5 separate regions of the Homo sapiens genome follow, and regions 2, 3, 4 and 5 are each linked to region 1. Evidence: fine-mapped expression QTL. A gene starts in region 1. Each other region holds a variant in brackets. All regions are shown on one strand. Distances are between the middles of the regions. Region 1 holds the start of RABGAP1L (RAB GTPase activating protein 1 like). Region 2 overlaps LOC124904457 (a long non-coding RNA gene). Region 3 overlaps RABGAP1L (RAB GTPase activating protein 1 like). Region 4 has its middle 7.3 kb from the start of MRPS14. Region 5 has its middle 62 kb from the start of RABGAP1L-DT.

Evidence for each region.
Region 2: its variant is fine-mapped to the expression of RABGAP1L in thyroid (GTEx, PIP above 0.99).
Region 3: its variant is fine-mapped to the expression of RABGAP1L in fibroblasts (GTEx, PIP above 0.99).
Region 4: its variant is fine-mapped to the expression of RABGAP1L in whole blood (INTERVAL, PIP above 0.99).
Region 5: its variant is fine-mapped to the expression of RABGAP1L in whole blood (TOPMed, PIP above 0.99).

Annotation. Positions count from the first base shown.
Region 1 is chr1:174,156,542-174,162,873 of GRCh38, reverse strand. It overlaps RABGAP1L (RAB GTPase activating protein 1 like), which reads right to left and starts at 3,354. Exons shown (of 26, transcript NM_001366446.1): 1 at 3,217-3,354. RABGAP1L-DT (RABGAP1L divergent transcript) reads left to right here and starts at 3,587. Exons shown (of 4, transcript NR_121197.1): 1 at 3,587-3,710; 2 at 3,884-3,987. RefSeq lists silencers at 2,949-3,128, 3,249-3,648.
Region 2 is chr1:173,920,177-173,926,508 of GRCh38, reverse strand. It overlaps LOC124904457 (a long non-coding RNA gene), which reads right to left. Exons shown (of 2, transcript XR_007066739.1): 2 at 2,031-2,632. It also overlaps the pseudogene RNA5SP67. Among named protein-coding and RNA genes, the nearest start is that of SERPINC1, 6.0 kb to the right of the region's middle. The variant C/T (reference allele first, on the strand shown) is at 3,546.
Region 3 is chr1:174,670,614-174,676,945 of GRCh38, reverse strand. All of the region lies in intron 14 of RABGAP1L (RAB GTPase activating protein 1 like), which reads right to left. Among named protein-coding and RNA genes, the nearest start is that of GPR52, 230 kb to the right of the region's middle. The variant T/G (reference allele first, on the strand shown) is at 2,359.
Region 4 is chr1:175,027,688-175,033,816 of GRCh38, reverse strand. No RefSeq gene overlaps it. Among named protein-coding and RNA genes, the nearest start is that of MRPS14, 7.3 kb to the right of the region's middle. The variant TGG/G (reference allele first, on the strand shown) is at 3,767.
Region 5 is chr1:174,094,298-174,100,629 of GRCh38, reverse strand. It overlaps the pseudogene RNU7-78P. Among named protein-coding and RNA genes, the nearest start is that of RABGAP1L-DT, 62 kb to the left of the region's middle. The variant A/T (reference allele first, on the strand shown) is at 3,008.

The DNA.
Region 1 (6,332 bases):
ATGGCACATGTATACATATGTAACTAACCTGCACAATGTGCACATGTACCCTAAAACTTAAAGTATAATTAAAAAAAAAAAAAAAAAAAAAAAAAACAGAAAGAGAAAAAAAAAAAAAAAGAAATACCAGCACCTGGAATAGCCTTGGGCTGCTGGTCATCCTCAGACTCAACGGCTGACCCATTTATATAAGTCAAGAGTTATAAAAATATAGAACTCATTAAAATTAAGACATAAGCAAGCTCTGTGCCTGGGAATCCCATAGGCTTACAGCAACAACTTCATTCTCCAAACCCCCTCTAACCAGTCATAATGATCCATACCCCACTTGAAGACAATGGTAGGTTGGAATGCAGGCCCACTTCTACACCTTCAATATAGGAAATTTTTGCTACTTAGCCACTACTCTCTTCAAAGTCAATCTCTTGAAGCCTAGCTATCTCCCACACATATTTTTACTTGGCACAACAGAATTCCTTCTTTTGATTACTCCAAAAGCATGGATAAAAGGACTTTCTGCTTCAATGCTGTATCATCTGAGAGTTCAAATAAATATACAATGGCTGAGCAAATTCAAGTTTGGGTTAAGGCAAAGAAAAAAATTCAAGTTTTTTAAAAGTCACAAATTTAGAACTGGAGAGCTGATCACATGAAAACTCCTGTTTCACATGCCTAATAAAATTCTTTCATTCAAAGGAAAAAAAAATCATAACTACCAGCGTAAAAAGAAAACATCTAAATCATGAAACAATTATCAAAGAAACAAAAATTCTCAGAACATCGCAACTGTAATATATAGAAATTCCCATCAAATAACTCAGGTGAAAAAAAAAAAAAATGGGACAAGCACCGTTGGCTCAGGCCTGTAATCCCAGCACTTCGAGAGGCTGAGGCGCAAGGACTGCCTGAGGCCAGGAGTTGGAGACTAGCCTGAGCAACATGGTGAGACCCTTGACTCTACAAAAATAAAACAAAAAATTAGCCAGGTTTGGTGGCATGTGCCTGTGGTCCCAGCTACTCAGGAGGCTGAGGTGGGAGGATCTCTTGAGACCAGAACTTCGTGGCTGCAGTGAGCTAGGACTGAGCCACTGCACTCCAGCCTGGGCGCCAGAGCGAGACCTTGTCTCTTTAAAAGAAACAAACAAACTTCATCTATTTACAGTCACACTTTTTTAGGTTGGTTTGTATATTCACCATATGCCCCAATAGTACTGAGACTTACTAACTTGTTTCCAGCTTTCTAGAGGACAATGTAGGTTATATAATATGTTCACATATAAGCTCTACCCTATTTCATCTACTTCTCCCCATATGACTTACTAGTACACATCAGAGGCCGGGCGCTGTGGCTAACGCCTGTAATCCCAGCACTTTGGGAGGCTGAGGCGGGCAGATCACCTGAGGTCAGCAGTTCCACCAGCCTGACCAACATGGAGAAACCCAGTCTGTACTAAAAATACAAAATTAGCCAGGCGTGGCGGCGCATGCCTGTAGTCCCAGCTACACAAAAAGCTGAGGCAGGAGAATCGCTTGAACCCGGGAGGCGGAGGTTGTGGTGAGCCGAGATCGCGCTGTTGCACTCCAGCCTGGGCATCAAGAGCGAAACTTCGTCTCAAAAATAATAATAATAATAATAATAATAATAATAATAATACACATCAGAGCAAATGTAGGCTACATAATATGTTAAAATATAAACTCTGCCCTGCTTTATCTACTTCTCTCCAAATGAATAATACATAATATCAGCGCATTTATTGAACTGATTTAGTATAGACACCAGTCTAACTCAAAGTCTAGAGCTAACCCCTCAGGCAGGTGTACATTTAATACAATTTGATGATAATGTATACATAAAGTTCAACTAGTCTTTCTCCTTAGAAATCTCATTGTCAATTTCATAAGGGACGCTCTACTGAGAAAATGAATCACAGGCCAGTTTTCTAGTACTAGGAGCTTGTGAACCAGTATTTTCCATGAACAAAATCCACTTCCAATGTGATCACAAAAAGCAAACTTCACATCCGTATCTTCTGACATCATAACTAATGGATATTCTACGGAAGATGCCAAATATAAACACTACTGTAAGAAAAGTCAGAAGGTTTTCATGAAACTGTGTTTTCAGAATTTTAACAAGCAACTACTTACCTCCCACTATGCACGAGGAAATTTAAATGTATTAAAAATCCCTAAACCCCTCCAGTGCCAAAAATAAAGGCCTTAAAATCATTTTCCAAACTGCGCTGAAATCTGTCAGGCAAGCAAAAGTTCTCCTTACCATTAGTGTAATAAGGCTGGCATTTCAGTTTACTTGCATGAAACCAATTTTGCAAGTGACCACCCAAGTTTTGGTACATATTCTAATATAACCCTATCTGAGAGATCCAAGGACCTGGACACACTGCCTAGTATCTGAAACCCGTCAGTTCAGCTCCCATGCACCCGGCCACCTCCCGCTAGCCGGTGGCCCCTTTCCACATGCTGACGCACTGCCCAGCCCTGTACCGTTGGCGACCAGTGCAAAGTACTAGCCCAGTCTCAGAAACTTTGACTCAGTTATCAGGACACTGAGCACTCACAAGGTGGGTGGGGGTTGGGGGGAGGTGTTTGTCATGGCTCAGGAGGTCAACTTTGAAGCGGGGCATTCCCTACAGGTAGGGATCTGCCCGGAACGCATCCCATCCCAAACTGCAAAACCACAAGCATCAACAGCAGGAGCCGAGCAAAGTGCTCGGCGGAGGAAGAGGAAGGGCGAGGGAGAGAAATGGTCGAGTACAGAAGCCTGCGTGTGGGTAAGAAAATACCCTAACCACTCGCCCACCGGACGCAGGGCGGCTGGGACTGCGAATCCAGCAGCAGCCACAGCGTAGCAGCGGGCGGCAGCCGCCGAGGCAGCAATGTCAGGAGGGCACAGCTGGAGGAGGCGGCCGCCAAAGCCACTACCCCACCCCCAGGTAAGGGCGCCGACCCCGCCCGCCCTATCCGCGAGGAGCGGCCACCTGGGAGAACTGCGGTGTCCGGGAGGCGGCCGACAGTCCTGAACCCGCCCCCTACCCTCCTTACCGCGGTCCTCCCGCATCCCAGTCCTCGGCTGGGGCCCCATCTCGACCCTCCCCAGGCTCAGCCCGACGCCAACACACCCAGGCAGCCTCGGCCCGCGGATCCGGGCCGCCGGGCCGCCCTCGTGTCCCTAGGAGGCCGTCCTCGCCTCACCTCTTCACGTCTCCGCGGGCGCTGCCGAGACAACAACTCCTTCAGGCGCCCGCGTTCCACCCTCCACCTCGCGCTCTGAAGCCGGGCCGGTCCCGTTCGCTCCGCCACCGCTGGAGCCCGAGGAGGGCGGAGGGAACTGAGAGGGGAGGGGAGAAGGGCCGCCTGGCAGGAAGAGGCGAGGGAGGGGGCGGGCCGAGAAGGAGGGGAGGAGGCGGTGGCGGCGGGTCGGAAGCGCGCTCGTCCAGGCCCCTCTGCGCGGCGTGCGCGCTCCTGATGTCGGAGGCGCCCACTCTGCCGGGCGGCGGCGGCGCACACGCGCGTGCACGTCGCTGCGTGGCCGCGGTTGCGCCGGGAGCGGAGGAGTGAGGTCCTGACAGAACCAGAGCTGTTAGAGCAGGGACGCGCGAAAGGCGGGAGTACGGGCGGCGCTGGAGAACCTCCGCGGCGGAGGGGCCTGGGGGTGGGACCGCGCCCGCGAGCCCGCCCTGACCGGGGTGCGTTCTACTGGCAGTTGCTGAGTTCGGAAGATTAACTCTGAATGTGGAGAGATTATTTTCTTGCTCGTAAACCTGGTTTACATATTTTCATTCTTAATGCTCAGTAATCTTAAGGAAAGTCACCTGAAAGAATACTTTTTCACCAAGTACTCTTCTGCGCCTGTTTGAAGGTGTCTGTGTGCTTGTGAAGCGCTCCCTTGTTAGTTCCTTCTGTGAGACTCGGGGGAGACTGAAGAGGGAAATCACCTGCGGGGAATGAACAGGAAAGCAATAAGTAAGCACCATTACGTATTATATGAAGAAAATGTGCCCTCATTTGCACCTTTTTATCCTTTGGGGTAAAAGATGTTGAGGTACAAACTAGGTAGAGGTAGAATAAACCAACGCTTTTTCGCTACGAAGATTGTACTGATCCTTGAATTGTGGACATCCTTCTTCTAGATCCTGCAACCAGAAATGACCTGTAAATTTTCCGAATCTCCTTAGCACTTTGTTCTGTAGTTTTGTGGCACCTAACATGTCAGGCTTATCCAGGTTGCCCTGTGCAGCATTTTATCCCACTAGACAACCGCTGTGAACCTGTATCATTCATTTGTATCTTACACTGTGCACCCTGCCTAACTCATAGGAAGCACTCAATGAATGTGATTGCATGGATAAGTGAATATAGTGTCCAGTGATTGCAGCCATAGAATGACTTTAGTTTAAATATCTCCCTTCTATCCCACTTCAATTCCCCTGCCCTCATTTTCCCACCCATATTTAAAAGCTACTCTGAGAAACGTGACATTTGTCCAAAGGGCCCTCCCTGACAAATTCCTTCCCCCCACACCCCCGCTTTTCCTGATGTTAATGTCTATAGATGCTGAGACATATCAAGAGTGTTGTAACTATTTTTTTGTTTCCCCTACCTTCTGGGCTGCTTCCCTTATTAACTTCTGTATCTCAGGAGCCTACCTAGCCCTGGGCCTGACAATAAATGCTGAAAGTTTTTATTATATTTAATAAAGTTAGGGTTAGAATAACATAAATCATCTGTTGATTTCCTGAGATGTACAGGAACTATTAATAAATCTGCCAACCAGTAAGTACTAAGCCTCTACTAAATAAAGTACTAGTAAATTTACACTGCGCGCCATGAGGAAATCAACAGTTGACAAAGCCGCAGTTTCTGCCTTCAGGTATCTTCTAACTGGAGTGAAGCTTTTTGACAAAAAAGGACAATGGATGTGGTAATTATGGGCATTCAATAGGTAACTTAGCTAAAAAAGAATTTAAAAAAAAAATGGCAAGTCCAAAACAAGTTTAGTGTTCCCCAAATTCAGTTCCATATGTCTTTGAAAGCAATAGTGGACACCACTGGCCACTGCGAGTTAATTCTTCTATTTAAGTGGAGCATGCTATCTTCATGTGCCAACTTGCTATAAGGAAAAGAAAAATCCTGTCCCATGGCCACATGTAACACCTCTCATCAACAGGGGTCATTCTTTAAAACTGAACTTTTCCTCACAGTACAACATAGATAAGAGACAAGTCATGAGAGAACCTAGATAAAAGACAATTAAGGTGATCTGATGCAAACTCATCCTTACCACCAGAAAAACAATTCTAAGCACATGCCAAAAAATTATTAACAGATCTTCAGGCTTTTAGTCGAGAAACTAAAAGGAATAAAAAATTAATAACAAAGCATTCTTCATGTGGTATGTGCTGCTCACTTCTCTTTCCACTGTGGCTTCATTTGCATTAAGCGTATCCTAGCAGCCCTGGTCCATGAAAGGACTGAAACTCTCACTTTGAGAGATGGTGTTATAAAATACTCCAGCATGATTCATAACATGACAAACTGGTGCCCCAGGTACAAATCAAACCCACAAACATGTTTTGTTTGGCATACATGGTGCTTAAAAAAACACATATCCAAAGTTAAAAACCAGAAGATTATACATGCATTTTGGGCTTCTCTTTAAAAAGTGGAAGATTTGGTAACAGTGAGCTTACATTATTACATGATAACGATCAGCTGCAGGACATGCATTCTCTCTTTTGCCAAAGTCTCTACATTCTCTATTGTATCTTACAGTGTTGTTTCTCTCATTTATGTCTGCAACTCCTAGTTTAAAATGTAATATCAAAAATTGGAAACAGACCAGGTGCAGTGGTTCATGCCTGTAATCCCAGCACTTTGAGAGGCCAAGGCAGAATTGCTTGAGCCCAGAAGTTCAAGATTAGCCTGGGCAACATAACAATACCCTGTCTCCACAAAAAAGAAAAAAAAAATTAGAAACAAGTTAAACATTGAACAATAATGTAAGAGTTTAAACTGGTATCTAATGGTACAGAATATCATATTGATTTTATAGTGAGCATTATATTGATTGATTCCCCAGAATATATTTCCACCCCTCTGCAATTGCAAGACAGCCAAGGATCTGATTAGGCCCATCTCCCGCTCCAGGTGTGGACAGTGATTGTGATAATCAGCCTAATCCCATTCTCACTTGACCTGTCAGTATTCACTGATAGGCACTGACATGAGTCTAAATTGGTGCCAGTCACATGGAAGGCCATATCTTGTGTTTGTTGGGAAATGAAAAGTGCTCTTTTTCTTACTCTGGC
Region 2 (6,332 bases), 240 kb after region 1:
AGTCCACTCAGACTCACACACAAATGTCCTTGGGAAACACCCTCCCAGACACATCCAAAATAATGCTTTATCAGGTTTCTAGGTATCCCTTTATCCAGTCAAGGTGATACCTAAATTAAGTCCACAAGTCTACCTATTGTCAGCCTGGCACCAGTGATGCATCTCCTTAACCCATACTTAATTTCCTGCAGCCTCAACCTCCCAGGCTCAAGTAATCCTCCTACCTCAGCCTCCTGAAGTAGCTGGGACTACAGGCATGCGCCACCCGCCTGGCTACTTTTTTGTTCACAGTGACGGTGTTTGGCCATGTTGGCCAGGCTGGTCTCGAACTCCTGAGCTCAAGTGATCCGACTGCCTCGGCCACCCAAAGCGCTGGGATTACAGGCGTGAGCCACCGCACCCAGCCTCCCTTTGCTGTTTCTCTTTCACCACCTACAACTTCCCAAACTAATATAAAAGCAACAAGCTTTGACCCCACACAACTCTCTCTTGCTCAGCCTCCAAAGAATAGCCTTGTCCAATGTTTCTGTTCATACAAGGTGTCAATTCTTCTGGATGAGTAAGCATTTTTCACCTTACTTGATAATCTAAACTTTCTATTTGGGAGGAATTTAAAGTGCTATATTTCCTGTTATTAAGTTAGCAGAACTACTCTGGACCTGGATTTTTTCAAACATGAATGTTTATCAAGTACTTGGTACATTCAACAGGACATGTTCAATAAATATTTGCTGTTTTGATTTGGTTTCCCTGAAGCCAAAACTGAACTTTCTAACAGGAGGATTTGGGCAAATTCCAGTGAGATGCCTTGAGAGCCTCAGCTAAATGCTGCTAAATGATAATGTAGGATTTATTTTGGTAAGTTTAATTTCACCTTAATTAAAATGTCATGTTCACCTAGTAAACTGGGAACCCAAGGGAGTTGGAGACTGCTTTTTGTGCTAAATGTTTTGCCAAATTTCCATGGAAGGGTTAAGCTTTGAGTTATTCAGTAACCACAGCAGAAGCTGGGTCCTATCTCTTCCCTGCCAAGGTCTTATTCTTGAGTCCAAAGGAAAGAACAGAACAGCCCAGGGTATGAGGCAATGGACATGGACCTGCTGAATTACCTGCTCATGGAAGTTACTACTGAACTGGAAGCAGGGCTAGGGAAAGAGGAATTTTATCACTGATCTTGAAGGAAGTACTAAAAAAAGAGAGGGTAATCAACTGCTATGTTCTCTCCTCTTCATGGTTCCTTGAACCTACTCCTAACACAGCAAAGCACAAGCCTTCCAATCTTTTCACTCAGAATTGAGAAAAACAGTGCCACACAGAAGTAGGGAGTCCTTTTCAAAAACTGATTTTTTTGTGATAAAAGTTCTTAAGATGTCTATCTCTTTCTAATATTTCCAGTTCTAGAAATATTAGAAATTTCCATGAAAACGTTAATTTAAAGAAAAATTATTTTTCTTTCTTTTTTAGAGACAGGGCCTTGCTCTATTGCCAAGGCTGGCGTGCAGTAGTGTGATCATAGCTCACTGCAGACTCAAAATCCTGGACTTAAGAAGTAGCTATGGCTGGCCAGGCATGGTGGCTCACGCCTGTAATCCCAGCACTTTGGGAGGCCAAGGCGGGCGGATCACAAGGTCAGGAGATCGAGGCCATCCTGGCGAACACGGTGAAACCCCGTCTCTACTGAAAAAACAAAAAATTAGCCGGGCGAGGTGGCGGGCGCCTGTAGTCCCAGCTACTCGGGAGGCTGAGGCAGGAGAATGGCGTGAACCTGGGGGGGCGGAGCCTGCAGTGAGCCGAGATGGCCCCACTGCACTCCAGCCTGAGCAACAGCGAGACTGCATCTCAAAAAAAAAAAAAAAAAAAAAAAAAAAGAAGTGGCTATGGCTACAGGTGCACGCCACCACACCCGGCTAATTTTTTCATGGTTTGTAAAGATGGGATCTCGCTATGCTGCCCAGGCTATTCTTAACTCCTGGCCTCAAGCCATCTTCTAGCCTCAGCCTCCCAAATCATTACAAGCATGAGCCACCATGCCCAACCTAAAATATCTTTATTATATTTAAATATACACAAAAAATACTTTTCAGAATACCTATGTGTGTGTAAACACACACACAGTCACAAATTAGTTTGCCCAGCATACAAGCTCTTTTTTTCTTTCCCAGTCTAAACAGTCTAAGATGAACCAAGAGGAAATGGATCTGGGATCATCCAAACCTTGATAGTATAATAAAAGCCAAGGGGAGCTGTGTGCAGTGAGTACCAGAGACTAGGCTGGTGGTAAAGTCTCCCAGAGACCAATGAGAACTCTTGGGAGACCTGCAGGAGAAGCATAGTGGAGAGGGCGAGGCAGCCCGGGATCCAGCAGATGATCACTGCACCCACTATCCCTTGACTGTTTCCTGACTGTGTCTTCCTCCAAACCACTGATGGCAATGTTGGATAGGACAGAATGAGGCACATGGCTTCTCGGTCCGGAAACATGATTATAGATCCGTTTCTTTCATTCCAGGGCATGGGATCTCAGTTTCCCAAATGTGCTGGGTCCAAGAGGTGAGAGGCAGGGAATACCTGGGCTGATAACTTCCAGGGCTTAGGATCAGTCTCATCTTCATCATGTGGCTTATAGACCGACCTGTGGAAAAAGAAAGAGCTAGTGTGCTGAATGCCCAGGCTGAGTTGTGAGTATGCTCATTTGGGATGTGCATCAAATAAAATATGGATAGACAGGCCGACTGTGGTGGCTCATGCTTTTAATCCCAGCACTTTAGGAGGCTAAGGCAGGAAGATCGCTTGAGACCAGGAGTTCGAGAGCAGCCTGGGCAACATAGTGATTTCGATTCTACAAAAAACAAATTAGCCATGTGTGGTGGAGCATACTGTAGTCCCAGCTGTGGAGGCTGTATATATATTATATCTATATTATATATAGATATTATATATAGAGAGAGAGGGGTGGGGGAGAGAGAGAGATAGAGGCAAAGGAAAATGTGGTAGTCCCTGGGTTCATTTCTGGGCACTGGATTTGGAGGGAATTGTGAACAAGTTTGACAGAGACTATCCAGAGGAGAACCAGATGAAAAGCAGTTGGACACTGTGGGTTGTAACATGGGAAGTCCTGGGCATTTCTTTCATATCTATCGTGCTGGGACACAAGGGCTTTGAGAGAAGCAGAGGGAGGTTTGAATCTCAGCTCTGCTAGCTTTGCAATTTGGGGCAAATAACTCTTGTAAATAGTAGTGTTCTCATCTGTAAACTGGGCATAATTAGTATCTTTCTGGTAGAGCTGATGAGAGAATTATATAAGCTAATGCCTGGGAAGCATTTAGTATAGACCCTGATATATAGTGTTTTTAAATAGCACCTATTAAGATGGCACCTATATGATCATAAATCATATTCAAACTTTTAAAGAGTCTGACCTAGGCTAATGTCTAACACTAAAGTAATGGTTAAGTTCTAGACTACTGAATATTATACAGCCATTAGAAACTACTTTCACAGGCAGGGCACACCTAAACACCTCTTTCCACCTGCAGACCCGTTCT[C/T]CTTTTCTCCCCTGTCACCAGCCAGGCACTCAGCCTGCCTCAGGTTCCTCTTTGGTGCTGCCACTGCCCTCATCCTGCCCTGCTCCTCTTCTCTCCCCAAGCCTCTGTGTGAATACAACACTGACACCCTTGTGTCATAAAGTCAAGACATATTGAATAGGTGATACATTGACATGTTCAACATTAGAAAACTAAATAAGATGGTACATATTGATAAGTCTACTCCTACCCTTGTCTCTAGCCACCCCTCACCCCATCATCCTCACTTTGTGTTACAAAAAGCACAGCATACTATAAACACTTTCTGCAGCTTGCTTTTTCCCCACATAATTATCCTAAGGACCCTTCCATATCAGTACATCCATATAGAGCATCCTCATTCTTTTACACAATGGCACAGTTTTCCATTGTGGGGATGTGCCTTGGTTTATTTAACCAGTCTCCTACAGATGGAAGTGGTGTCCAACTTTTTGTTATTATGAATCAGGTCATGGCAGCTAACCTTGCTGAAACCCATGCAGGTGTAGCTGTAGGATGAATTTCCTGAAGTGGAATGTCTGATTCACAGGGTACATGCATTTGTAATTTTGGTGTTTCCATGTTTCCCTACAAAGCACCTACAAAGACTTATGGCACTTTGTACCCCGAAGAGCAAAGGATGAAACAGCTTGTTTCCTCACAGCCTAGTGTCTTGTCTAACTTAATCTCTTTTAATTCTAATGGTTTTTGTGATAATCCTTTTTAGAGAAACATGGAAATAACAGGGAGGGAGGAGTGCTTTAAAAGTCTTGCAGGGGCTGGATGTGGTGGCTAACACCAGTAATCCCAACAATTTGGGAAGCCAAGGCAGGCAGATCACTTGAGCTCAGGAGTTAGAGGCCAGCCTGGGCAACATGGCGAAAACCCATCTGTACAAAAAGTTTTTAAAAATACATAAATAAAGCCAGGTGCGGTGGCTCATGCCTATAATCCCAGCACTTTGGGAGGCCAAGGCAGGCGGATCATCCGAAGTCAGGAGTTCAAAACCAGCCTGGCCAACATGGTGAAATTCCGTTTCTACTAAAAATACAAAAATTAGCAGGGCATGGCGGTGCATGCCTGTAATCCCAGCTACTTGGGAGGCTGAGGCAGAAGAATCGCTTGAGCCCAGGAGGTGGAGGTTGCAGTGAGCCAAGACTGCGCCATTGCACTCTAGCCTGGGTAACAAGAGTGAAATTCCCTCTCAAAATAAATAAATAAATAGCCAGACACAGTAGCACACACCTGTAGTCCCAGCTACTTGGGAGACTAAGATGGGAGGATTGCTTGAGCCCAAGTTGTCTAGGGCTGCGGTGAGCTAAGATGGTGTCACTGTACTCCAGCCTGGGCAATAGTGAGACCATGTCTCAGAAAAAAAGATTAATTAAAAAAATTTTTGTAAGTCTTGCAAAAGGATCATTGAGGGAAGCTTAAATTAGCAGGTGAAAATTTGATGGAAAACAATATATTTGCATACTCTCAAGTATGTGAAGTATCCCCACAAGACATTTAACAAAAGGGGAAACATTGTAATTTTACAGCAGAGAAACTTGGCAGACACAATCTTGTAATCCAAGTTAATCACCAGTGATGGGATAAATTAACATCTGTACCTCCTGATGCGATACACTGAGAAGGACACAGTATTACCTCTGTTGTATTCCTGCCCCGAAAAGGATAACTTGAATCTAATCCTGAAGAAATTTTAGACATACCAAATTGAGAGACAGTCTTCAAAATTAACTGGCCTATATGCTTCAAACAAGCCAAAATCATGAAAGAAAAAGAGAGGAACTGTTCCCATCCAAGTACTAACCGGGGCCGACCCTGCTTAGCTTCTAAGATCAAGCACTTTCAGGGTAGTATGACCATAGACGAGAGGAACTGTTCCAAGCTGCAGAAGACTAAAGAGACATGACAACTAAATGCAATGTGTGCTCCTGCCCCAGGGAAAGGAGAAAAAAAATTCTTTTCTTTTTTTTTTATTGGCTATAAATCAGTGCTTCCCAAAGCATGGTCCAGGGACCCTAGGAGATTCAGAAAACCTTTCAGTAGGTATATGAAGTCGAAACGATTTCACTTTATTTATTTATGTTTTGAGACAGGATCTTACTCCATCACCCAAGCTGGAGTGCGGTGGTGCCATCATGGCTCACTGCAGCCTCAACCTTCCAGGCTCAAGTGATTCTCCCACCTCAGCCTCCTGGGTAGCTGAGATTACCAGCGCATACCTCCATGCCCAGCTAAGTTTTTGCATTTTTTTATAGAGATGGAGTTTCGCATGTTGCCCAGGCTGGTCTTGAACTCCTGGGCTCAAGCAATCCTCCTGCCTCGGCCTCCCAAAATGCTGGGATTACTAGTGTGAGCCACTCAGCCTGGCCAAAACTATTTTAATATGTAACTATTTTAATAATAATATTTAGATGTTCTTTGGCAAGACTATAAAAGGATTCTGAAACAAAGAAGGTGAAAACCATTGCTTTGAAAACCAGGTGTGGTGACTCCTGCCTGTAATTCCAGCTAGTGGGGAGGCTGAGGCAGGAGGATTGCTTGAGGCCAGGAGTTTGAGACCAGTGTGGGCAGCAGAGCAAGACCCCCATCTCTAATGGCAACAGAGTGACAACCAGTCTCTAAAAACATTAATTGGATGATTGGCAAAATTAGAATAAGGTTTAGAGATTTTTAAATAGTACTATATTTGAAAATAATGCTGGGCGCTGTGGTTCATGCCTGTAATCCTAGCACTTTGGGAGGCCAAGGCAGACGGAT
Region 3 (6,332 bases), 510 kb before region 1:
ATCTACAGATGACTCCTTTAGAAAATGATATCCCTGGGGTTTAAGCTATCATAAATTTTTTGAATCCAGTATCTGTTCAAATTATGAGAGGAAAGAGGAAGGAAGGAAGGAAAAATTCTATTTTATGTAACATAAAAAAGAAAATCAGATTAGTATAGATACCACCATATCTATTAATCTATTACACCAGTTCAATTAATCAAACCATATGATGGCTGAAGCTAACAGTATCCAAAGATGTTGGAATACTACTGACCATGCTATCACTTCAGTAGAAGCAGTCACCAAAATATAAACTTTCATTGGAAAATAGATACATTTCTTCATTCATACACAAAGTACGTGCTTCTCAAATAATCCTTTTATATTTTAAAATCAGGAATCTTTTCACTTAGAAGTTGAAACTCCAAACGTTAAAATATTTGATCGGCTGCTTCAATCCAGGGAAAACTTCAGTTTGCTTTGTTTTTGCTTTGTCACAAAAACTATTTAAAATCTCTATGGAAGAACATTTTCTAATACTCACAAACTGAATCAGTAACCTAGTGAATTCTACAGTAACAGTTTCATCTGACATTTTACTACCAGGAGAAGCCTCTCAAAATCTGTAATGAAAAAACTGAAACAGTAAATCTAGTATGAATTCCCTAATATTTAAAAGGGCCATCTTCATCAACTACACTCAGCAAATCTATTCAAAAGCCTTCTTAGAATAATATATGTAGTCTCAACAATATACAGGTCTATAGAAGCTTCTGTTTTGTCAACTAAAATCAGAACTTCCACAGGATAACTAAAATATTTTATGGATAAGGTCATCAGTTAATACCCCATGCCCTAAATTACTTTTCAGGCTGCAGTCACTACTCCCAGGCCATCCATTACAGATATGTGGTAAATCAAGGTAGTATTTGTGTAAGTACCTGCTTCAAAGCTGCTTTTTCTTTCTTTTACTTCAAAAAAAAAACCCTCAGTTTTACTTGCAGGTACCTCTGTTATCACCACTGTGCTAGCAAGGTTTTTGTTACATATGAATAAGAATACAAATCTGGCTATTAAAATTTCACAAAAGGATAATGACAATATGCTTCTTTCAAAAACGTTTCTTGTTTCAGCCAAAAGCTTCTATTAGGAGAAGCATGAGAGCTACAGGGGCTTTTAAGTACCACTATGTTTGGGTTATAATTCAGCACGTGGCCTGAATCACATAGATTCCATGACATCTAAGAACCAGGTAATGGCAATGCAGTCTTTCAGCTATTAAAAACCCAAGGTAATTTATAGATTCAATGCCATCCCCATCAAGCTACCAATGACTTTCTTCACAGAATTGGAAAAAACTACTTTAAAGTTCATATGGAACCAAAAAAGAGCCCGCATCGCCAAGTCAATCCTAAGCCAAAAGAACAAAGCTGGAGGCATCACGCTACCTGACTTCAAACTATACTACAAGGCTACAGTAACCAAAACAGCATGGTACTGGTACCAAAACAGAGATATAGATCAATGGAACAGAACAGAGCCCTCAGAAATAACGCCACATATCTACAACTATCTGATCTTTGACAAATCTGAGAAAAACAAGCAATGGGGAAAGGATTCCCTATTTAATAAATGGTGCTGGGAAAACTGGCTAGCCATATGCAGAAAGCTGAAACTGGATCCCTTCCTTACACCTTATACAAAAATTAATTCAAGATGGATTAAAGACTTAAATGTTAGACCTAAAACCATAAAAACCCTAGAAGAAAACCTAGGCATTACCATTCAGGTCATAGGCATGGGCAAAGACTTCATGTCTAAAACACCAAAAGCAATGGCAACAAAAGCCAAAATTGACAAATGGGATCTAATTAAACTAAAGAGCTTCTGCACAGCAAAAGAAACTACCATCAGAGTGAACAGGCAACCTACAAAATGGGAGAAAATTTTTGCAACCTACTCATCTGACAAAGGGCTAATATCCAGAATCTACAATGAACTCAAACAAATTTACAAGTAAAAAACAAACAACCCCATCAAAAAGTGGGTGAAGGACATGAACAGACACTTCTCAAAAGAAGACATTTATGCAGCCAACAGACACATGAAAACATGCTCATCATCACTGGCCATCAGAGAAATGCAAATCAAAACCACAATGAGATACCATCTCAAACCAGTTAGAATGGCGATCATTAAAAAGTTAGGAAACAACAGGTGCTGGAGAGGATGTGGAGAAATAGGAACACTTTTACACTGTTGGTGGGACTGTAAACTAGTTCAACCATTGTGGAAGTCAGTGTGGCGATTCCTCAGGGATCTAGAACTAGAAATACCATTTGACCCAGCCATCCCATTACTGGGTATATACCCAAA[T/G]GACTATAAATCATGCTGCTATAAAGACACGTGCACACGTATGTTTATTGCGGCACTATTCACAATAGCAAAGACTTGGAACCAACCCAAATGTCCAATAATGATAGACTGGATTAAGAAAATGTGGCACATATACACCATGGAATACTATGCAGCCATAAAAAATGATGAGTTCATGCCCTTTGTAGGGACATGGATGAAATTGGAAATCATCATTCTCAGTAAACTATCGCAAGGACAAAAAACCAAACACCACATGTTCCACTCATAGATGGGAATTGAACAATGAGAACACATGGACACAGGAAGGGGAACATCACACTCTGGGGACTGTTGTGGGGTGGGGGGAGGGGGGAAGGATAGCATTAGGAGATACACCTAATGCTAAATGACGAGTTAATGGGTGCAGCACACCAGCATGGCACATGTATACATATGTAACTAACCTGTACATTGTGCACATGTACCCTAAAACTTAAAGTATAATAATAATTTTAAAAAAAGAAAAAAAAAAGAAAAAAAAAAACTCTGAACACTCAAAAACAATTTATTTTATTACAAATCATGTTTATGGAGGTATAATTTATATGCAGTAAAAGTCATCCTTTGCTCATTTTCCTTGAGGAAGACATACTATGGGATTTATTGATGACAAATACTTCTACATTCTTTAAATATTATCTCTGTGTGAAGCTAAATAATGAGGTAGCAAAGTACCATATTCCACAGAACTATCTTTATTGAGTTAGCATTTGACATTACATATTCAGCCTTTCAGACTTCAGCATGCTCAACTCTAGAACCCCAGTCCATATAAGAATTTTGATTTAGGTACCACATATGCATCTTTTATAAAAGCACAATGAAGTCACTGTCTACAATATTACTCCAAATTCCCATACCTAGTATAACCATGTATCTCTGGTTATGTTTTTCCAATTCTATGCCTGAAAAATAAAAAAAATTGTGACCTTATTTTTTAAAAAGAATGCATTAAGAAGAGAAATATGTAATTTAGCATTTTCTTTTTGCTTTCATTAGCAGAAATTAATAATCAAATTCGTTACTCAACTGTAGAAAATAGCTCATCTCAGGTACCTGATAGCATCTTGGTCACTGCGTTTATCTATTTTTACATGTGTTTTAATTTTGTAAACTCTTTCAGATCTTTTAGTAAATAGAAAGGCAATCACTCAGTCTAAAAAAAAATCATATTATGGTCCATTGTTCTCCTTTAACTTTTTCTGCTAATGATATTATCACTCTCTGTTCAAATGAGAGAAAAATTAGATCATGGGAATCGTTATCTAATGAATGTGAAATGACCTTTTCTTCATTATCATCAGTTTCCAGACCTCTGCCTAATCTTGAAAGATCAATTAGTATCCTTTTACTTATTTAATTTTATTTAATTTATATAGTTATATTTGATTGCTTAATTTGTACTTTTATCTAGAGCTATGGGTGTATGTGAGCTCATGGATGTGGAGGAAAGGGAACCCTCATACACTCTTATGTGTGTATGTATTAGGGGTTGGAAGTAGGATAAAGAGAGAATACAGAAAGAAAAAAGGAAAGAAATTATGGAAAAGTTCGAATCCTATCCCTATTTGGAATATTCCTGAATACAGTAGCCTGTATGTTCCTTTTCCATGAACTAGGAACTCTGAGATTTGTTCATGACAAAGCATGTTACATGAATGATAAGTATATTCTCAAGGCTTCCCCTTTCCCATGAAAGATGTCTAAGTGCAGGATTCCTTAAAACTGTAAATCTCCAACCGTAGTATAAAACTAGAAATCAGTAACAGGAGGAACGTTTAAAAATTCACATGTACATGGAAATTAAACAGCATGCTCCTGAACAATCAATAAGTCAATGAAAAAATTATAAATAAAATTTAAAATTTTTTTGAGAAAAATGAAAATGAAAATACAACATACCAAAACCTATGGGATGCAGCAAAAGCAGTTTGAGAGGGAAAATTACAGCAATAAATGCCTACAAAGAAGACAGGTTGCAAATAAAAAACCTAATCTTGGATCTCAAAGAATTAGAAAAACAAAGACAAACTCAGCCCAAAATTAGCAGAAGAAAGAAAATAAAGATCAGACCAAAAATAAATGGAATGGAAAGTAAAAACAAAACAAAACAAACAAAAACCTGTAATCCCAGCTACTCAGGAGGCTGAGGCAGGAGAATCGCTTGAACCCGGGAGGCAGAGGTTGCAGTGAGCAGAGATTGAGCCACTGCACTCCAGCCTGGGTGACAAAGGGAGACTCCATATCAAAAAAAAAAAAAAAAAGAAAGGAAAAAAAAAATCAATGAAATGAGTTGTTCATTTGAAAACATAAAATAAACACCTAGACTAAGAAAAAGTGAGAGAAGACTCAAAATCAGAGATAAAAAAGGAGACATTACAACTGATACTACAGAAATTAAAGGATCATAAGAAATTATTATGAACAATTATATGCCAACGAATTAGATAACTTAGAATGGATAAATCTGTGTACATATGCAACTGATCAAGGATGAAATATTACTGATTCAGTCTCCTTACTCATCTATTTCTTCATGTAGATGAGTAAGGAGACGACTGAATCAGTAATAAAAAGTCTCCTATCAACAAAAAGCCAGATAGTTAAAAAACTACCAAATATTTAAAAATATAGCTGAATTCTACCAAATATTTAAAACACTAACACCAATTCTTCTCAAACTCTTCCAAATAATTGAAGAGGAAGAATTACTTCCAAACTCATTCTGCTAGACCAGCATTACTCTGATACCAAAACCAGACAAAGGTACAACAAAAAAAGAAAACTACAGGCCAACATCTATGATGAACATACATGCAAATATCCTCAACAAAATACTAATAAGCCAAATAGAACACCACATCGAAAAGATCATCAACCACAATCAAGTAATTAATCCCAGGGATGCAAGGATGATTCACTATATGTAAATCAATAAATGTGATACATCACATTAGAAGAAGAAATGATAAAAGTCAAAGTCATTTCAATAAATGCATTAAAATCATTTGACAAAATTCCACATCACTTCATGATTTAAAACTCTCAAATTAGATGTAAAAGAAATGTACCTCAAAACAGTAATGGCCATATATGACAAACCCATAGCTAACATCATGCTGAATGAGGAAAAGCTGAACTGGAACAAGATATGGATGTCCATTCTCACTTCTATTCAACACAGTACTGGAAGTCTTAGCCAGAGAAATTTGGCAAAAGAAAGAAATAAAAGGCATCCAAATTGGAAAGGAAGAAACCGAATTGTCCCTGTCTGCAGTTGACATCATTTTATATATGGAAAACCCTAAAGACTGTACCAAAAATCTTAGAACTAATAAATGAATTTAGTAAAGTTGCAGAATACAAAATCAACTTATAAAAGTGTGTTAGTAGCATTTCTATGCACTAACGGTGAACTATTTGAAAAAAGAATCATGAAAACAATTCCATTTAAAACATCTACAGGTTTATATCTGAAAGACAGGCAATAACAAATGCTGGCAAGAATGTGGAGAAAAGGGTACCTTTATACACTGTTGGTGGGAACGTAAATTAGTACAACCACTATGGAGAACTGTTTGGAGGCTCCTCAAAACACTAAAAATGGAACTACCATATGATCCAGCAATCCCATTGCTAGGTATAACCAAAAGAAAGGAAATGAGTATATTGAAGAGATATCTGCACTACCATGTTTGTTATAGCACTGTTCATATTAGCCAAGACTTGGAAGCAACACAGAGTCCATCAACAGATGAATGGAAAAAGAATATGTGGTACACATAAACAATGGAGTACTATTCAGCCTTAAAAAATATCCTATCAATTGCAACAACATGGATGGAACTGGAGATCATTATGTTAAGTGAAATAAGCCAGGCACAGAAAGACAAACATCACATTTTCTCACTTATTTGTGATATCTAAAAATC
Region 4 (6,129 bases), 870 kb before region 1:
AGCCAGGGAGCCCAACCTGGCAAACCTCATGGGCTGAGAGTCAGGCCCATGTGCCCCCTGGGCCAGTCACAGTCCTATGATCCCAACCTGCACACTGTAGCCAGTGGCCCGGCAGGCAGAACTAGAGGGGTGGAAAATCAACAATCCTAAGTCTGCAAGGCAAGAAGACATTGAATATGTGGATGGAAAATGAGACTCAGAAAAGGAAAACCTCTCTGCATGCATATTATCTGCAACAAATCAAAACAAATAAGCAAGCATCTCGAGATTGCAGGAAAGAAAATTTAACACTTCTTTTTTTGAAGTCAGGAATAGTAAGTGAAAATTGAGTGCTATATCCACTACTACTAATTTAAAATGTGCAAAATGTCAATCGCATTGTCTTTATTTAGACATCAGCTTTGATAATTAATGTAAAGATGACTTTCCATAAATTTACCCCCCCTCAGAGCCATATTTTTCCACGTGATCTCAAGTTCTGCAAAAGAAAAATGTCCTTTCTCCTTACCAAAACCCCTGCAGTGATTCCAGCCTGACGAAAAAGCGCACTCAGGTCCCTAAACTCAGGCAAGCTAACTAAAACATTTACATGGGACTGTGTTGACATGTGACATATTCTGCAACACTACCTCCCCTATCTTGTCACCTGCTCCTCACCTCCTTGGGTGACAGGAACTGGTATGTGCCTGTGTTCAATTAAGCATTTGATGAACTAAAGGGGACTGAATGGAAAGGCTGGCAGAAAGAAAGGCTTCGAGAGGAAGAACCACTGAAGGGGAAACAGATGAACAATCCAAGGTGGTCAGAGGTGTTTATGGGGAGAGATGGAAAATCACGGTGCTGCAGGCATTGACAGCAATCATAACATCATGTTAAGGGGTTTAAACTTTATTTTGTAGGTGATAAGTAGCTACCAGAAATGAGTAGTTGTAGTCCTAGAAACTTCACTTTGGCAGCAGAAAAGGATGAATGCTTTTGTGGGAGAGATGATGGGTTAAGTTTAAAAAAAAAGAAAAGGGAGAGGCAAAACAGCAGGTAAGAGTCCAGTTGGTCCTAGTACAGAGAAGAGATGAAGAGGGTCTGAACTAGGGGAGTGGGAGCAGGAATGGGAAAAATTAAATAAACAATTTGAAGTAGAATCAACAAGATTTGGATGATCGGTGGGAAGGGATATTTTTTATCTGAGCCTGAATTCTTCCCACCACCCACAAAAGAAGAATCGCACGGTGGCTCACGCCTGTAATCCCAGCACTTTGGGAGGCCAAGGCGGGCAGATCACGAGGTCAGGAGATCGAGACCATCCTGGCTAACACGGTGAAACCCCATCTCTACTATAAATACGAAAAATTAGCCGGGCGTGGTGGCGGGCGCCTGCAGTCCCAGCTACTCGGGAGGCTGAGGCAGGAGAATGGTATGAACCCAGGAGGCGGAGCTTGCAGTGAGCCAAGATCGTGCCACTGCACTCCAGCCTGGACGACACAGCGAGACTCCATCTCAGAAAATAAATAAATAAATAAAATAAAATAAGAAGAATCCAGGACAGAGGTGTGTGTGCCATTTGTTTATTTGGGAGCAAGAGTGAGGGATCAGGGCAGTGGAACAAGAACGAATGAAAAAGAGAAACAAGGACGCCACTAAGTGACTACTAAGTTAGCAACTGCTGCGGCTGACTGGAGCTTGATGTCTCGCTAAGGCCTTCCAAGGAGCCTTATGAAATGTGTTATCCCTTGGCTTCCATCTCCATTGGTTTAGGGTGTCCCCATGGGCATCACTCCCCCTGCACTTGAAGCTATGCATACATGACAGCTGAGCAGGCTCCTGGCTCCTCAGGTGTCCATACCAACACCAAAGAAGCCCCAGGGCAAGGCATGAGAGGTTCCTGATGTGAACCCAAGGTGAGTGTCACTGCAGCTGGACTAAGCTGGTAGCAGCCTGCTTGGAAGTGGTCAGCCAGGCAGTAGCTGGAGCAAGAGGTCTGGCTAAAGACATGAGAGAAAAGGAGCCAAAGGTGACTCCTATTCCCAGTGAGGCCATTCGTCAAGACATAAGGCCTTTAGAACAAAGGAGGCAATCTGGAGGAGACAGTTTTTACTGAAGTTTATGTGGGAACGCAAGGCCTTACATGGGCTCCCCCTGTGCCCCCAGTGTTCTCACCTCACCTACCTTCTTCCTCTCACTCACTTGGCTCCAGCTGCTGCCTCCCTGTTCCCCCTCAGACACACCATGCACACACCCCACTCAGCCTCCACAGCTGCCATTCCTTTTGCCTGGATGTCCTTCCCCCAGAGCCTCCTAGCTCACTCCCTCACACCCTTAAGGTCTCTGTTCAAATGCTGGCTCATCAGAGAGCCCTTCTCTGACCACATTAGGTAACAGTATCTCCTACCATAATGCTCTTTTTACTCTGCTTTTCTCTTCATAGCATGTCTCCATTTGACACATAATTATTGATTTGTGAATGGCTCTTCCCCTTTCTCCACTACAGTGTAAGCTCCATGAGGGCAGGGACTGTGTATCCTGCTGTATCCCCAGCTCCTAGAACAGTATCTGACATGTAACAGGAACGTTCAATAAATGTTTGCTGAAGGAATGGATGCTTACTAGCTCAGATTGGTACACGTGGAGTTGAAGGAGCTCTGGCACCTGGGCGAAAAGGCTCATTGGAGATATAAGTGTGGACTGGGAAAATGCAAGTGGCTGAGATCATGAGAGCCTGTGACCTGGGCTGGCTTTGCAGGTATGTCACTCATGTGTCACACAGCCCCTGCCGTTCTTGTGTGTTTGTGTGTGTCTGTGCATGTATCCCCATGCCTTCAGGAGAGCCCTGTGCTTGGTTTAATGTTCTACTGTCACTATCTTGAAATTCTGAATCATTATGTTTTTGAATTTGTGTCTTGTAAGTGAGGTCCAGTGGGACAATGGAACATCTGCATGAGCAGAGGGGACACATGTGCCCATCGTTCCTTGCTGCTCCCTTTGTATGATGCCCCATCCACATGGAATTCTGGTGGCCCCATGATGTATGGGAGATTAATGGGACTCAAAGCGAGTCCAAGGTAAGAGTACTATGTCTATGACTGAGTCAGCTGGGGCACTGGCAACCCCAAGAGGCCACTAGAACTTGCTTCCTATACATGAAGGTGTTGACATTCTAAAAGGACAATAGTTCCTTTTCCTTTCAGTCCTCTCTTACTCATGAGTAAGCCAAAGTCAGAAGGTGCTGGTAGAATGCACGTGGATCAAGAAGTAAAATAAAAGCAACTGAGTTAGTTTTATGCAATATTTTCACTGTTCTGGTAAGAACAAAACACAAAGGCATATACAAGCAACAAAATAAAAATTGTATAATTTCACTGATTCTGCCTATGAGTTAAATGCTCTTACATTTGCACGGTGAACTGGCATTCCCCAATATGACGATGAGTGGTAAAATTGATGCTAATGATTTAAAAGTACATTTAATGATTTTGTTTTTCTTTACTTAGAACATTAATAGAAAATTTAAAAATCCCATAACAAGTCCAGAGTCCAGGAAAGAAAGGAAGAGGCTTCATATTTTACTACCTTTAGCAGCACTTTTTTCCCTGCTTTTTGAACAAGAGGCCCTACATTTTCCTTTTGCACTGGGCCCTACAAATCACATAGCCTGTCCTGCCTTTGACTCCCACGGAGGCGGCAAACTCAGTCTCAAACACAGGTCCCACTTGACGATAGGCGAAGTGTCATTATTTTATTTGGGGGACAGCTGTGTGTGTGTGTGTGTGTG[TGG/G]TGTGTGTGTGGTGTGTGTGTGTGTGGTGTGTGTGTGGTGTGTGTGTGTTCAGTTTGCATCAGGCCCTGTGTGTGGGAACCGAGGATGGCTGTGTGTTGGAACGCAGATGTAGTAATACTGCCATCTCGTGTTCAGCGTGGTGCACAGCACATAGCTCCAGGGAAGGCTCACAGGCATGGGACCTGTGGCTGCTTCCGGAAGTGCTAAGGCCATCCACACTCTAAGGCCAAACCGGTAAACCAATAGGATTGCTATTCCGCTGGTAGCCTTTAATGAAGGCAGATGTGTAATGAGAACAGAGGTTTCACCCACTATCCATCACACCATTTCAGAGCCACGGTTGAAATGCGTGTGTGTGTGTGTGTGTGTGTGTGTGTGTGTGTGTGTGTGTGTGGTGCATGTGTCCCCGTGCCTTTCGCTCTCCTTCCACAGGTTCTTTTCCTTTATTATCGCTTTCTTCCTCTTTGTAGTTCCCTCTCATAGCCCAAGAAATCTGGTTCTTTTGAGCCATATCCAGCTCTCACGTGGAAGGCCCATGATGAAGCACCAGGGGAGTGCATTGGGGCAGGTGTTCAGGCCCAAGGTTGCTGGTGACTCAGCTGAGGCCAGCTAAGAACAAGCACACACCAAGTAAACATTCTTACTGTGTGGCACCAGAAGCTGCAGTCAAGTTAGTTTTGTAACTTGCCAGTTATAAAATAATGAAAAGGAATAATTAATTAGTCCTCTCAGAAAACAGAGAAGTTAAGGAAATGATCATTCCTGTATTAGGTAAAGATTAGACACCAAAAGGACAGTTTACTTGATGGCATACACAGAAGCCAGAGAAATGAAGACGAAGGGAAGAGTGAATGGCTTGGTACTAAATATGAACGAAGCAAGCATCCCTGAATTCTTAATTTCTTGCTGCTTTGGTCAGGGTTCGGCCTGTGCCTGTCCCCAAGAATAAGCCAAGGATATTGATGGGGACCAGGAATGACCCCTTCCTATATGCACCTTGAAAAACAGATTTTTCAAATACTTTGGGTGAAATAATATAAATATAAAAAGACAAGAACAGGTTAATATTTTTAAATCAACTTCAACACATATGTGAATCTAATAGTATAAATTATAGAGAAATTGGAAAATTTTAAAGACCATAAGAATAACCAGTAATCTGCTCACTCATCTCTACTCTTAATATTTAAGAGTAGCCTTTTTTAATCTGTCTATTCTATACCTACACCTGTATCTGTAAATATATATATATATATTTTAAATTAGAAACCCATCAGATTTTTAAATTTAGGATTATAACTTGATTTCTTCATTTAACCCTCCACTTACTGTTAAGTTATTTATTTGTTGTTATAGATAAGACAATGATAAATGTCCTTTTATATAAAATTTAGAGTTTCTCAGTATTTCCTTGGAATAAATTCCTCAAAGTGGCATAATTGGATCAATAGTTACAAACTTTGAAAAGACTTGCCAAATTGCTTTGCAGACAAGTTATGCCAATTTATATTCTTATCACTCGACTATGAAATTACCTATTTCCTCACACCTCTGACAATGCCGAATTTTTTTTAACCTTTGCTAATCTGCTAGCTTAAATAGATCTCATTATTTTAATTTGCATTTCCTTGGAAACTAGTGAGGTTGAACACATCTAATGTTATTAGACAGTCTGAAAATTGTCTACTAAGATTTAAAAGTGTAAAAAATATATTCAGCTAGGCATGGTGACTCACATCTGTAATCCCAGCACTTTGGGAGGCCAAGGCAGGTGAAATGCTTGAGCTCAGGAGTTCAAGACCAGCCTGGGCAACACGGTGAAACCCCGTCACTACAAAAAATACAAAAATTACCCAGGTGTGGTAGCCCACACCTGTAGTCCTAGCTACTTAGGAGGCTGAGGTGGAATCACCTGGAGCCCATGAAGCAGACTGAGGTGAGCTGAGATCGCACCACTGTACTCCACCATGGGTGACAGAGTGAGACCCCATCTCAAAAAATAAAAATAAAATAAAACAATAAAAATTAAAAATATATTCATTTTTATTTTCTTCTGTTTTTTAAGCCTTTGTTAGTATTTACCTTTTTATCTAAAATTTGATATGTGGTAAGAGATGAAGATATAATTTTTCCCAAATCTTTACCCAGTTGTTCTAGCACTAGTTGTTTAACAATTTTTATGCTTCCTTTAATACATAACCAAATTCTAATTGCACTGGAGTTTCTATCAGGCCTATCTATTCTATTTCACGTAACTGTCTGTTGATTTTGGCGCCAGTACCACATAAGCTCAATAACTACGGCTCTATAATGTATGGTATATTAATATCTGGTAGGGTAAGACTATTCAGTACTTTTTT
Region 5 (6,332 bases), 62 kb after region 1:
TCTCCCTCTCCTCACATGTCCCTGTTCCCTAAGACACAACAATATTGACATTAGACCAATTAATAGCCCTACAATGGCCTGCTAAGTGTTCAAGAGAAAGGAAGAGTCACACATCTCTCAATTTAAATCAAAAGCTAGAAATGATTAGACTTACTAAGAAATGCACATCAAAAGCTGAGATAAGCCAAAAGCCAGGCCTCTTGAACCAAATAGTTAGCCAAGTTGTGAATGCAAAGGAAATGTACTTGAAGGGAATTAAAAGTGCTACTCCAGGGAACACACAAATGATAGATAAAAAGTAAAACAGCTTTATTGCTGATATGGAGAAAGTTTTAGTGGACTGGATGGAAGACCAAATCAGCCAAACATCTTAAACCAAAGGCTAATCCAGAGCGAGGCCCTATCTCTTCAATTCTATGAAGGCTAAGAGGGGTAAGGAAGCTGCAGAAGAAAAGTTTGAATCTAGCAGAGATTCGTTCATGAGGTCAAAGAAAAGAAGCCATTTCCATAACATAAAAGTGCAAAGAGAAACCGCAAGTGTTGATACAAAAGCTGCAGCAAGTTAGCAAGAAGATTTAGCTAAGACAATTAATGAATGTGGCTACACTAAACAACATATTTTCGGTGTAGATGAAATAGCTGTCTCTTGGAAGAAGAAGCCATCTGGGACTTTCATAGCTAGAAAGAAGAAATCAGTGCCTGGCTTCAAAGCTTCCAAGGACAGGCAGACTCTCTTGTTAGGGGCTGAGGCAACTGTTGACTTTAAGTTGAAGCCATTGCTCATTTCCCACCCCCAAATTCCTAGGGCCCTGAAGAATTATGCTAAATTTACTCTACCCGTGCTCTACAAATGGAACAACAAAGCCTGAATGACAGCACATTTGTTTACAGCATGGTTTAGTGGATATTTTAAGCCCAGTATTGAGACCTCCTGCTCAGGGAAAAAAAAAAAAAAATTCCTGAAAAAAATGTTACTGCTCATTGACAATGGACCTAGTCAATCAAGAGCTCTGATGGAGGTGTACAAGGAGATTAATGTTTTTTTCATGCCTGCTAACACAACATCCATCTATTCTGTAGCCCATGGATTAAGGGGTAATTTCAACTTTCAAGTCTTATTACCTAAGAAGCACATTTCGTAAGGCTGTAGCTGCCATAGATAGTGATTCCTCTGGTAGATCTGGGCAAAGTCAATGGAAAACCTTATGGAAAGGATTCACCATTCTAATGGCATTAAAAACATTTGTGATTGATGGAGCCTGAAGATTAACTGCAATGCTGCAATCTCACAATAAAACTTGAACAGATGAAAAGTTGCTTTTTATGGATGAACAAAGAAAGTAGTTTCTTGAGATAGAATCTACTTCTGGTGAAGATGCTGTGAACATTGTTGAAACGGCAACAAAGGATCAAAAATATTACATAAGCTTAGTTAATAAAGCAATGGTGGGAGGTTTTGAGATGATTATCTCCAATTTTGAAAGAAGTTCTACTGTGGGTAAAATGTTATCAAACAGCATTACAGAGAAATCTTTCATGAAAGGAAGAGTCAGTCAATGTGCCAAACTTCATTGTTGTCTTATTTTAAGAAATTGCTGCAGCCACTCCAACTTTCAGCAACCACCACCCTGATCAGTCAGCAGCTGTCAACATGGAAGCAAGACTCTCTATCAGCAAAAATATTAGGACTTGCTGAAGGCTCAGATGATTGTTAGCAACTTTTAGCCATAAAGTATTTTTAATTAAGGTATATACGTGTTTTTTTAACATAATGCTATTGCACACTAGCAATGGACTATGGTGTATTGTAAATAATAACTTTTATATGCATTAAGAAACAAAAAAAATTGTGTGACTTGGTTTATTGCCATATCCACTTTATTGTAGTGGTCTAGAACCAAAACCACGTTATATCTGAGGATGGTTTCCACCATCATCAAGTGGAAACAATGTAAACAGGACTAGACCCAACAGGTCCAAAGTCACAAGAAAGTTGCACATGCAGATGGCTCACACTGCAGCATGCCTTTTCTGATTACACTGCCACACTTTCCATATTCCACTCCTGTGGAATCACGGATACTTCCTTATGATCACTTGCCTGGGAAGGAAAAAAAAAACCTAACCAAATTTATAGAAATCTCTGCATGGTATGATAGCTCTTGCCCTAAATGGATTTCTGTAACATTCAGTTCCATCTAGGTAGACCCTGAAGGATGGTGGGAAAGGGATATCTTCCCTGTGGGAGAAACTTCAAGAACTGTAACTCACTGGGTAGTCTGCTCCTTGCAAATGAAAACATCCTATGTGATGTGAATTTTCCATGCAACATTGCTTCATTGCTTCAACAAATGAACTCTGTGAGTCAATATTCTGATACCCATTAGATTTACAGGTCTTATCTTGCACCCCATCAGCCAGAAGCAGTTGATGTTGATCTTATAGAATAGTGACATGGCTATTGAAAACCCAGTTACATTGCCAGCTCTCAGGCCATGCTATATTGGGGTGTGAAGCTGGGATGTGATCCTGCAGGATGAGGTAAATGCTCAGAACCTTTGAATAATACATAGTGCAGTTTCTCTTCTCCAGGAACCAAAGGAGTATAAATGGGGTTGTGCCTCCAAAAGTTTTATCAGTAGCCCTTGCATAAAATGTTTGTTTCCTGTCCTCATGACTTTGGTCTTTGATAATTTAGCAGTTTTAATAATTAAGAGTACACACACCAGGGATACAATAATTTTGTGGGATAGACAAGTAGAAATGTCTTTTAGTCAGAAAATACAGGGTCACAATTTAAATGAGAAGACAAGACTAGAGGTAACAGTTTGAGAGTCTTCAGGTGTCCGATGTGAAGGTGTAAGAGTAAATTAGTCCTCTGAAGGAGAGTGCAGACTGAGCAGCCAGCCAAAGACTGCAACCTGGGAAATCCTATAGTCAGAGGCTGAAGAAATGAACACAGGTTGAAACAATCTACGATAAAAATCAGTGAGGCATTTCTAGCTTT[A/T]AATAGTATTTGGCTAGCAGCCCTGCCTCAGGGTCTCTCAACTGCTGCCTAAAACCCATAAAAAGGTAAAGAAAAATGACAAAATTAATCCTAACACAGAGCATAAAGAATGACAAGCTGCTTGCTCATTACCAGGAGGAATTGCCCTAATTTATGAGGCTAATGGAGGTGGATTCAGAAAAACAGTTGTTGGCTTATCCATACTCTACTTCATGGTACAGAACAGATCCACCCATCTGAAAGAAAGTTTGGCATCTGAGCATCCCTTTCCCACTGTCTGCTCACTGAATTAGAGAGCCAGTGTCCATCAGAGCTGCAAACTAAGCAGCTGGCCCTCTTCGGCCTCTGTATTAGCCTGTTCTTGAATTGCTGTAAAAAAAAAATTACCTGACACTGGGTAATTTATAAAGAAAAGAGGTTTAATTGGCTCATAGTTCTGAAGGCTATACAGGAAGCATTGTGGCTTCTGCTTTTGGGGAGGCCTCGAGAAGCTTCCAATCATGGCAAAAGGCAAAGGGGGAGCAGGCATCTTACATGGCAGGAGCAGGAGCAAGAGAGAAAGTAAGGGAGGAGGTGATACACACTTTTAAACAACCAGCTCTCACGAGAACTCACTATCATGAGGCATAGCGTGAAGGGGATGGTGGTAACCGTTCCTGAGAAATCCACCCCTGTGATTCAATCACCTCCCACCAGGCCCCACCTCCAACACTGAGGATTATAATTCGACATGAGATTTGGGCAGAGACACAGATCCAAACAATATCAGCCTCTCGAATCTAAAATCCTGCTTTGAGACGTGATTATAATACTGTTAGAGACTATCATCTTTATGCATGTAACTGGGGACTGCAACTTCCGGAATTCAGTGGCGAAAGATGGGGTGGATGGAGAGACAGGTAATTGTCCATTTGCCCTGTCACATTTGTCCCTATGAATACAGTGTACGGGGAGAGTGCTGGCTGCAGTGCTTGCTGAAATGATAGCTGATCATGGATTCCATTGGTTTAAGACAGTGGAATAACAAAAGGCCCTGGGAATTACTCTCACGTAGGCATATCGATCTGGACTCTACTTAGAGATCTAAGAGTGGAGCCAAAGGAAATCCACACTTCCTATCTGAATAGATGACTGATATACTGGACATAGATGAGAAAATAAAGAAGGGAAAAACCTGTCCAAACTGACCTAAGATCTTAATTCTCTCCAGATTTAGCAGTATGAAAAGCTATCACATTCTTGTGTATTTTATTTCCTCAAGTTAACATTCCTGGCTGTCTCCAGATTCTACTAGTTAAGGTCCATCTTGCCTGACAACCTTTGAAAAAGATCCAGTTCTTGAGTTCATCTTCCCTCACAGATTTCAAGTTTCAGATTATTGTTTGCTTCTCAAGGCTGCTTGGCAAGGCTCTTAGACTTCAACTCTCCTTTGTTCCCTATCCACAGCTAGTGGTCAGCTCTGCTTACTTGCACATGACCTGTCCCAAATCCTTGGAACCTTGGTCCATATCACACTCCCAAGCCCTCTTCTTGTCCCAAGAGAAGCATAAAAAATAATATACAAAAGGGAAAGGATCATAATACAGAAGATTCAGAAGATTCGCTTATCTCTGAAAGTGATTTTCTAAGGAAATAGATACCTCTTTTAGAAAATTTGCATTCTCAAGAAGAAAGCAAGAAGATGAGGCTTGTATGAAACAGAAGCAGAAAGACAAAAGAGATGAGATAAAACCCAATCTGAGAATTACAAGTATGTTTGAGGAGTAATCTGGACTAATTTAAACAGAAGTAATAGTAACTCAAAGGCAAATTGAATAAAAATATCTAGACTTAAAAGAAGACCTAAAAGTAAAGAAAAAGGTGACATGAGATTAATGGTCAAAGATCCATATCTAGACATATCCTAGGGGGCAGAGAAGATAACAAGGAGTTTGCAAGCATTCCAGTAGACTAAAACAGATTACTTATAAATAACTAAAAATCAGATAACCCTCATTTAGAGCTTCCATTATAACAAAGTTTGTAACAAAATTTGGATGGATAAAATTTACAATTTAAGCTACTGTTTAAGTGCAAACTAATGTGTTTATGTACGATGGCAAGATAAAACATGAGAAGTTTCAGAATAAAATAATACCCATATTTTCTTCTTTAAAAAAGTCTTGAGCATAGCCGAGCACAGTGGCTTTTACCTGTAGTCCCAACTACTCAGGACTCTGGAGGCTGAGGTGGGAGGATTGCTTGAGCCCAGGAGTTCAAGGTCAGTCTTGGCAACATTGAGAAACCCATGTCTAAAAACTTTTTTTTAATAAAAAATAAATCACATTAAAGCTCTTTTAAAATTTGTCTAGCAGGTTTTCTGGTCTTTACCAGAAAGTCCCCGACAATGAAAAAAAATTTTTGTAAGAAAAATAAATTTTAAGAAATAAATCTTGGCTGGGAGCGGTGGCTCATGCCTGTAATCCCAGCACTTTGGAAGACCAAGGTGGGAGGATCACTTGAGCTCACGAGTTCAAGACCAGTCTAGGCAACATGGTGAAACCTCGTCTCTAATAAAAGTACAAAAAAAAAAAACCTAACTGGGCGTGGTGGCCCACACCTGTCATCCCAGCTACTCAGGGTGCTGAGGTGGAAGGATCGCTTGGGGCAGAGAGGTCGAGGATGCAGTGAGCCAAGATTATGCCACTGCACTCCAACCCAGGCAACTGGAGTGAGACCCCATCTCTAAATAAATAAATAAATAAATCTTGAGTATCTTCAACTAAGAAATCAGAATAAGAATTCCAAATGAAGGCCAGGTGCAGTGCTCATGCCTGTAAACCCAGCACTTTGGGAGGCTGAGGCAGGCAGATCACCTGAGGTCAGGAGTTCGAGACCAGCCTGGCCAACTTGGCAAAACCCTGTCTGTACTAAAAATACAAAAATTAGCCAGGCGTGGTGGCAGGCACCTGTAATCCCAGCTACTTAGGAGGCTGAGGCAGGAGAATCACTTGAACCTGGGAGGCAGAGGATGCAGTAAGCTGAGATCACGCTATTGCACTCCAACCTGGGAGACAGAACGAGACTCCATTTCAAAAAAAAAAAAAAGGAATTCCAAATGAGTAAGTTGTGCTATAAAATATGCACAATGGACATTAAAGCCTATTAAGTGTTATTTATTCAATTAACAGATACTTATTAAGTATTTTTACTATGTACTAAGCAATGGAAATGCAACAGTGAACAAGACTGTTTATTCCACTCGAGGGAAATAAAGACAATTCAATAAGTAATTATGGGTCGGGTGCGGTGGCTCACTCCTGTAATTCCAGTACTTCGGGAGGCT